2 separate regions of the Homo sapiens genome follow, and region 1 is linked to region 2. Evidence: fine-mapped expression QTL. Tissue or cell type: whole blood. Region 2 holds a variant in brackets; the other region holds the start of a gene. All regions are shown on one strand. Distances are between the middles of the regions. Region 1 holds the start of FOXN3 (forkhead box N3). Region 2 overlaps FOXN3 (forkhead box N3).

The links.
Region 1: FOXN3 starts here. The variant in region 2 is fine-mapped to the expression of FOXN3 in whole blood (INTERVAL, PIP above 0.99).

The regions. Positions count from the first base shown.
Region 1 is chr14:89,414,704-89,418,933 of GRCh38, forward strand. It overlaps FOXN3 (forkhead box N3), which reads right to left and starts at 2,530. Exons shown (of 6, transcript NM_005197.4): 1 at 2,168-2,530. FOXN3-AS1 (FOXN3 antisense RNA 1) reads left to right here and starts at 2,651. Exons shown (of 2, transcript NR_036500.1): 1 at 2,651-3,093. RefSeq lists enhancers at 1,382-1,676, 1,691-2,224, 2,225-2,757, 2,382-2,676 and silencers at 2,372-2,581, 2,622-2,911.
Region 2 is chr14:89,364,424-89,368,653 of GRCh38, forward strand. All of the region lies in intron 2 of FOXN3 (forkhead box N3), which reads right to left. It overlaps FOXN3-AS3 (FOXN3 antisense RNA 3), which reads left to right. Exons shown (of 2, transcript NR_188029.1): 2 at 1-585. Among named protein-coding and RNA genes, the nearest start is that of FOXN3-AS3, 16 kb to the left of the region's middle. RefSeq lists an enhancer at 1,042-1,091. The variant G/GA (reference allele first, on the strand shown) is at 1,837.

The sequences.
Region 1 (4,230 bases), 50 kb after region 2:
CCACCATGACTGGTTAATTTTTGTATTTTTAGTAAGACGGGGTTTCACCATGTTGGCCAGGATGGTCTCAATCTCTTGATCTCGTGATCCACCCGCCTCGGCCTCCCAAAGTGCTGGGATTACAGGCGTGAGCCACCGCGCCTGGCCAAGATGCCCAACTCTTAAGGAGAGAAAACTTCATGAGGCATTGCAGTACAGACCAGGCAGGATGCTCCAGACGTCTTGGGTTCACTCACAGGGAATATTTCTTTCTGTCAAATAAGGAGGTTACCCTGACACATTTCAGACAAAAAACAAGCTAGCATCTTTTGGCTTGGGGATACAACAGAGTCTGGTCTGATCCTGCTTTTAACTTCTTTATGAACGAATTATAGCACCACTTGTCTTTCTTAAAGTTTCCTCAGATCCCATCAGAAAATTTTCTGATGACCAGCATATGCCCACAGTAGAGTATAAAACAGAACTACCCAGCCACTGAAGTCAACTTTAGCTCTAAATGAAAGTTTTATGTCTCCTGAGCTTCCAAACAGGAAAATTATATCATGGCTGACAGTAAAGTAATTTAATTGCACTGTTGCTATGACAACATGCTGCTCTCTTTCTTTTTAATTTGCTTATTTGTCAGTAGCTTCCCAGAGGAACTAACACGCTATTCTCCATGTTTCCTTTTGTTTTAAACAAACACTGCCAGCAATATGGTTTTAGGAGAAAAAGTGGCATTGTCACGAAGAGAGGGTTATGGGAGTTCAGTACCCTTGGATCATGTGTGCGTTTTGTGCTGGGACCCCGTACTCTCCAACCACTCACTGCATCCCTATAAATCCCGCATTTTATACCAACAGGGTGAAGAGCTGCTGATCACTACAGTTCCATGTAAAAACAAAACAAAACAACAATAACCAAAAAAAAAAAAAAAAAAAAAAAAAAACAGTTCCCAGAAACCACAGCTGAGGAGTTTTCCATTATTATACTCTAACTACAGATTTCGCCAAATCTTTTTTTCCTCCTGTTTCAGAGGGAAAAAAAAAGAATCTGGATCATGTGAGTTGCAGTTAAGCAAACATTTTTAATCTGCTGCCAACAAGGCTGCTCCACCAGATACGCAAATAGTTATTCACTGGTGACCTCCTTACAACTTTTCTCTACACACACACACACACACACACACACACACACACACCCTCTTTTGTTTTTTTTATGACTTGCTGTGTTTTGTTACCCTCTTTATTTTTTAACGGAGAAAATGCGGCAAGAAAGCTTAGTTTCTCGCCTAGTAAACAGAAGGTCTCCAAATAACTGACAAAGACATTACTGGCCCAGCTCTGAACAGATGTTCGATGCGAACTTTAAAAAGTTAAGAAATCTTCCCAGAGCCGAGCAGTAGCGAGTTTGGGGGGCCGGGTCACCCCCGCCCACCCAGCACGCGCGCGCGCGCACGCACGCGCTTCACTCTCGTCTACTGTACTTGTCAAAAACATTTCAAGGGGACCTGCGGGAGTGGCGATTGGCTGCACCCCGCGTCAATCAGCGGCGTTGCCGGGCAACGGGGGAAACTGCTCTTATCCCCATATACAGGGCAATTGGGAGCTCGCATACCTTCACTGCCGGTCAGATGTCATAAACCTTTTATTGGCCGCACCGCGGCGAGCCTCGAAAACAAATCAATAAAAGCCCGCCGTCCCCCAACTTATCCAGGGCCCAAGGAGGGTTTCAAACAGGGCCGGGATGAGGGGGGTCGGGCCTCGGGGGTCTCCGGAGACGTTCGTTGCCTGTGCCAAGTCTGCACAGTTTGGCCGGGGGGTGATCTTTGTTAGGAGCCTGTTTCTCATCTTGGGGTCTCCACTTGATCGGAACCCCCTCCCCGGCCCGGAACGGCGGGGACCCCGTCCTCCGCAGACAATACCAACTCTGTTCCTTGCGGGCGTCTTTTCGGAAACCGAGGCACCGGGAAGCAGCACGCACGTCGGGGCAGGAAACTCTTCGGACCCGGCAACTTCCCGGCTCGGGGGCTCCCGGGGTCCACACCCGACCCTCCCCCCAGGACCTGCGGGGTCCCTCGTCTTCCCAGAGCGGCGAGGTAGTCTCCAGGACCGTCTCGGACGCGCCTCCCGCCCCGGGTGCCCCCCGAGCCCACGCGGGAGCCGGCAGGAGCGGGGTGCAAACTCACCTGGCCGGAGCGGGGCACGGGGGTGCGGGGGCGCCGCTGCCCTTCAGCAGGAGCCGACAAACTTTCGCGGGCGCCCGGCGGGCATCGCTCGGTGGCCCCGCTAAGGACGCGCGGGCGCGGCGCGGCGAGCCCGGGGCGGCGGGCGGCGGGGGGCGGCCGCGGGCGCGGGCGGCAGGGGCGCGGGGGTCGCGGCGCGGCATGGGACCTGCGGCGTCCGCCGGGCGCGCCGCGCGTCCTCCCGCCGGCCCCGCCGCTCTCCCCGCCCCGTCCCGCCTCCCGCTCGCCTCCGCCGCGGCGCGTCGGGCCGGGGCGCGCCGAGCGGCGAGAAATTGTTTCCACTGCAAACAAAAAAAGGCGACACATGACCAGGCAGGAGGAGGGGAAGCGCGGGGAGGGAGGAGGGCGGAGGGAGGGACAGAGCGGAGGGCGGAGGGAGCCGGAGAAAGGGAAAACGTGGGCCTGGCCGCCAGCGGCCTGGGGCGCGGGGCACTGACCCGCCGGGGCGGACCCTGCCCGCGCCCCTCGCGCGCCCCAGCACTCAGCCAGGGCGGAGGCCGGGGCTGGGCCGCGCGGCCTCGCCTCTTGGGCCCCGCGGGGCGGGGGTGACCGGCGCGGGTCCCGCGACCCAGGGCGGCCGCGACCGTGGGCGGTGGGGCAGGTGGGTCAGGCGGCGCGTGCCCTGTCCCCTCCCCGGGCTCCGGCCACACGAGCGGGCCGGCGCTGCGCTGCTGGCAACGTGTCGCGGGAACGCTCCTACCCCATCTGCATGCCTTACATGGCTCGAAAGTAAAAATAAAAAGAATTACGATGCGGGCGAGGCTTGTGGGGGTGAGAAGAGGAGATTCCACGTCTCCCCAGTGCTGCGTCCTGATAGGACCCCCAGGGCCTTCCGAGCCCTCTCCCAGCGACCACCTCGTGTCCCGGAGGTAAGCACCGCAGCGTCCCACCCAGGTGGCCGCGTGTCTCCCGAGGGAGGGCCGGTGGCCATTACAAGACAAGAGGCACCGTCCTAAAGGCCACGCCGGTGGGGCCTCTCAAGTGGGTTGTGCGGAACGCCCCGGCCGGCCTAGAGAGAAAACAGGTCTCATTTCCATCTCAGTTTGAGCTCTCAGGAACCAGACTGACAATTCGCAAGCCACCCAGCGAAATGGTGCAGCCACCACTCTAAGTCTCTAGGCACCTCCAAATAATAGCACCCACTGCTAAAGCCACACCAACCAGCCGCCTTGGGAGAGGATGAGAGGAGAGAGTCCAACAGGACACCCTGGTGGTGACAAAAATAAAAATGTGATTGCACATTACTCCCAGGTAGCCAAATTGGTTGGTTCCTCTACAGAGGAGAAGCCCAGGGCACCCTTCCTGCCACCCCCTCCTGAGCCAGTGGACAGGACATCGTGAGCGGTCTGAAAACTACAGAAAAAAACAGCGAGTAGACCTGGAGAAAGCTTTCTAGCATGCAGTACTTTTAAACCTAGCCAAAAGGAGGGACTAAGGGAAACACCAGTTAGGCTTCTGAAAATTTTTTCTGTCTCAAAAAATAGACCCCCCCCCCCCAATCTGAGAGTCATTCCCCCTAACAAAGGTTCAAGAGGGCAGGTGACAAGTCTTCAGCAAAGATGTGCCTTTCAGACTCACCGGAGACCTTACTACTTCCAAGTTGTGTGGCATCTCCCCATCTGGAGACAATTAGGAGGTGGAAGCCCAGGGGTAGCCTGAGGTCATCCAGCCCCACCCCTTTGATTACTGAGCACTTGATGCGACCTACCCAAAGTCACTAAGCAAAAGGCACAAGGTGGCAGAGACAAGTCAGATGATCTTTGAAGTCTCACGCCAGAGATTCTCAGGGTTAGAAGTGGTAACAAAGCCAGGATGAGACAATGTGTACCCTGCTTTCCTGTAGCTCCGGCTAATGCAGGTCCTGCCCCTCCATCAGCGCGTCAGTTGAGGGTGCTTATTCTCCGCCAGAGGAACCAAGGCCAGAGACCTTTGTCCAAGCCCTTGCTGGCCTAGAGAGGACGAAGTCGCCCCCTTACATCTTCCTCTTCCATCCCCAGCCCCCAACC
Region 2 (4,230 bases):
TCTTTCTCAAGATCCTGGCCCCATGAGCCTCAGTGTAGCCCTAGTTCCTGGGATCAGCACCAACAGGCAGGGAGGAGAGGCTCTGGCGCCCTGCAGACAGCACCAGGTTCTTGGCATCAGGAGCTGGATACAGAGTCCCTGATAATCCCAGCCACAGAATATTTCAAACTCACCGACATGTCCTCTAAATATCAGATATGAAAAGGCTTCCACTCTTGCACCTGTCTTGCTATTATTTTACAGATGTGTTCTAAAAGCTATAAAGACGGAAATCACTATTAGTGTGTCACTTATGTGATATTCAGACACCTGAGCTCTGTGATGATTTTAATGCCCCACAGGTCTTTCAGAAATCCACCTCATATACCTCAGAACGCCCCTCCATCTGCAAGGGAACGCATGTGGAACAGGTGGAGAAGGAATTCTTTTAGGCCCATGGGTAGAATTGTAAGGACTCTTGTAAATGCTTCTTCTGTAGTAGAGAAGCTGGACGGTATGTGTGTGTGCTTATGCGTGTTTGAATGGACGCAGGAAAAATCAATAATCTGCTTGCATCAACACCTAAATAAAACCAAAATAATCCCATGATTTGCCTAAAACCAAATTAATCTCTAGGAAAAGCCTGCTGTGACAGAGTTGTGTGGGGGCGGGAATTACAAAAGAAACGCAGAATTTCCCCGAGCTTCCGCTTTGCAGGAATCTCTGTTCCGTTACTCACTATTTTGAGAGAGCCCTGCTTCTTCCTCCTTCTCCCCACCACACGTCAATGTCATTTTCACAGGGGGGAGGCTACAGGAAGCACACATCTGCAGTGTGTCACCTCCCGAGGCTGACAGATCTACTCAGTATTTGTTTGGGTTGAAAATAGTTATTTTTTTGTACTCTCTACACTATTGTTTCCCAAGTGCCAAAAGCAGTCAAGAGCTAGCACGCTAACAACGATCAATCATAAAATGATCATGAAAACATCCAAATTATATTGACTTTGAAATACTGTCAAACTCTACACTGCTAAGTTCTAATAAAGAAAAGGAAACAGAAACACACCCCTCATACTCCAAGTCAGAAGGCCAAAGAGGTGGCATCTTTAAAATCACTATCTAGCTAAATCGGTTTTATCCAACTAAATCTTAGGATCCTCCCAAATTAGTTTTACCACTCTGTCTTGGGAGGGCCTTTAGCAAATAAGGGTTTAACTCTTCTTCTCCATCTGAAACCTCATCGCATGACATAGGCTGACTAAAAAGGGTAGAGGCACAGAAGCATTTAAAAAAACTTCAAACACATGCAAAACACACAGGAAGCTAAAAAGCGGATCGTTTTATATACTTCTAATAGCTGCCATGCTATGCCACTTCAAAGAGTCAAACTATTACTCAAATGAACTCAATATATTATGTGGCATGAAGCCATAAACTCTCACGTACACACAAAGTACACATGGAGAGATTTTAAAATTTAACATGAAAGTTAAATAATTATTACAGAGAAACATAAAGTAACTAGAATAACTAACATAAAGTTATTCTGTAATAACTTTATTATAGGCCGAGCCCAGTGGCTCACGACTGTAATCCCAGCACTTTGGGAGGCCGAGGCGGGTGGATCACGAGGTCAGGAGATTGAGACCATCCTGGCTAACATGGTGAAACCCCGTCTCTACTGAAAAATACAAAAAAATTAGCCTGGTGTGGTGGCGGATGCCTGTAGTCCCAGCTACTCGGGAGGCTGAGGCAGGAGAATGGCATGAACCCGGGAGGCGGAGTTTGCAGTGAGCCGAGATTGCACCACTGCACTCCAGCCTGGGCGACAGAGCGAGACTCCGTCTCAAAAAAA[G/GA]AAAAAAAAAAAAACTTTATTATAGAAAAAAACATGCACATTTGAAAAGTTTTGTCTCCTGATAGGAAACAGGAATGTACAATGATGTGGTAAACTTGTCTGGAACGTGGGCATGTTCCTCTTTTTTTCTAACAGTTGTTTGTATCACACCCACAATCTTAAAGTCGAAATTGCATAAGCAAATTACAAAGAGGATAAATGGTAAAGTAAAAGACATACATTAAATTGCCCTCTTCGTGCCTTTTTTAAAAAAAAGTTTGAAAGGCAAGCTGACAGTGCTAGTAGGGATGAGGGGAAATAAAATTCACCACTCATTGCATTTACATAAATAATGTGTTTAAATACATAAATATTCATTTTTAAAGCTCAAGGCCTAGTAAAAGAATTTCTAAGCATATTGAATGAAGTGGAGGGGGCAGCTGACAGCCAGCTCTGACTTCAGGCTGCAACTGGGCGCGCACTCCTTCCAGTACCTCCACTTTCTTTAAGGTGATTTCCATGCTGCACACAGTAACAAACGAGTCAGGTTTTATGGACGGCAATAAAGGTAACGTGGGCCTGACACATGGATGCCCTTGGTTGGATTACAACTGGCCCACCTACTGCCACTTTATCTTCTGGTTGTCCGTAGTTACTCATCTATTTTTAAATGTTCCAATGTGATCTTATCAAATTGGCACATAATTTGATCACCATATTTCCATAACTGGAAGTTGTTCAAAGTACCTGGCCAGGTAACAGTGACAGGGTGTGTGTACTAAGCCAGAGAGCTTCAGTTATGATTTTTTTATTTTAATAAATAATCATGAGCCCTTCTCTCTCAGTGAAACACAGACACTGGGTTGTTTGGTGTTTGTTCTTGCGGAGTGGCCATTGGCCACGAGATCACCAGTCACCCATCTTCCCTAATTTTCAACAGGGAACTTTCCTGGGAGTTCCTGGGTTGTGAGCCTGGCTTTTAGCCACAGCATCCGGCCAACCAACACATCCACTTTTAAGGAGACACTGCCTCTACAGTGCCTCTCAATTCTAGAACAAGCACTCACTCCAACCATGAAGCAGATCCCTTTCAACAAAGGGTGTCTAACACCGACTGCACCCTGATGTGGCGGCACCCGGCTCCAAAGATAAATCCGAAACCATCTCCGACCCACATGTGAGAAGCTGCAGGGACCAAATAACATTGTCAGTGTTATCGATTCCTCCAGCGTTCTTGTCAGCGCTGGGTAAGATATGGACAAAGCACCCGGGAACCAGAGGATATGCCCGAGGTTGCCAGGGAGAGGACAGGGGTGCCAGGGAAAACTGCAGGTAAGAGGCTGCCAGACCAGTGCTCCAGCGGGAACACAGGGTCAGGGAGACAGAACGGGGGTTGGACGCAGGGGATAAATTCACACTGTGATTCACGGGTAGGGGGATGGAGGAAAAAATTAAACAAACAGAATCTACCCAGAAAGACCAACTGACCTGGCCCCTGGGAACAGTGGCAGCAACCACGTGGAAAAGGCACTGATGCCTGAGCTATCTGTCCCAGTGGCTGTCCAGAGAGCCAGGGCTCAGCAAGCCGGCCTCCTGCCCCAGAAACCCTCCCCTCGTCTCCCAGAGGCCTATGGTAGAGAATTTAAAAGGTAAATGACTCAACCCAAGCATCGTATCTTCCTCAATCCCAGCATCCCATGCTCCTCACCAATTATGTTCCTGTGAGATCAAAAGGTAGGAGCTGCTGACCTCGGCAGGTGTGTGTCTACCTCAGAAACTGCTGAGTTCTGCTATCAAAACGAATCCCAGGCCGGGCACAGTGGCTCACACCTGTAATCCCAACACTTTGGGAGGCCGAGGCGGGTGAATCACTTGAGGTCAGGAGTTCGAGACCAGCCTGACCAACATGGTGAAACCCCGTCTCTACTAAAAAAATACAAAATTAGCCAGGCATGGTGGCACATGCCTACAATCCCAGCTACTTGGGAGGCTGAGGCAGAAGAATCGCTTGAACCCAGGAGGCGGAGGTTGCAGTGAACCAAGATCACCCCATTGCACTCCAGCCTGGATAAAAAGAGTGAAACTCTGTCTCAAAAAAAAAAAAAAAGAACACCGAATCCCTGGCCAGGCACAGTGGCTCATACCTATAATCCCAGCACTTTGGGAGGCCAAGGAGGAAAGATCACTTGAGCCCAGGAGTTCAAGACCAGCCTGGGCAACATAGTGAAACCCAATCTCTAGAAAAAATGCGAAAAAATTAGCCAGGCCTGGTGGTACACGCCTGTAGTCCCAGCTACTCAGGAGGCTGAGATGGGAGGATCACCTGAGCCCAGGGAGGTCAAGGCTGCAGTGAGCCATGATTGTGCCACTGCACTCCGGCTTGGGTGACAGAGTGAGACCCTGTTTCAAACGCAA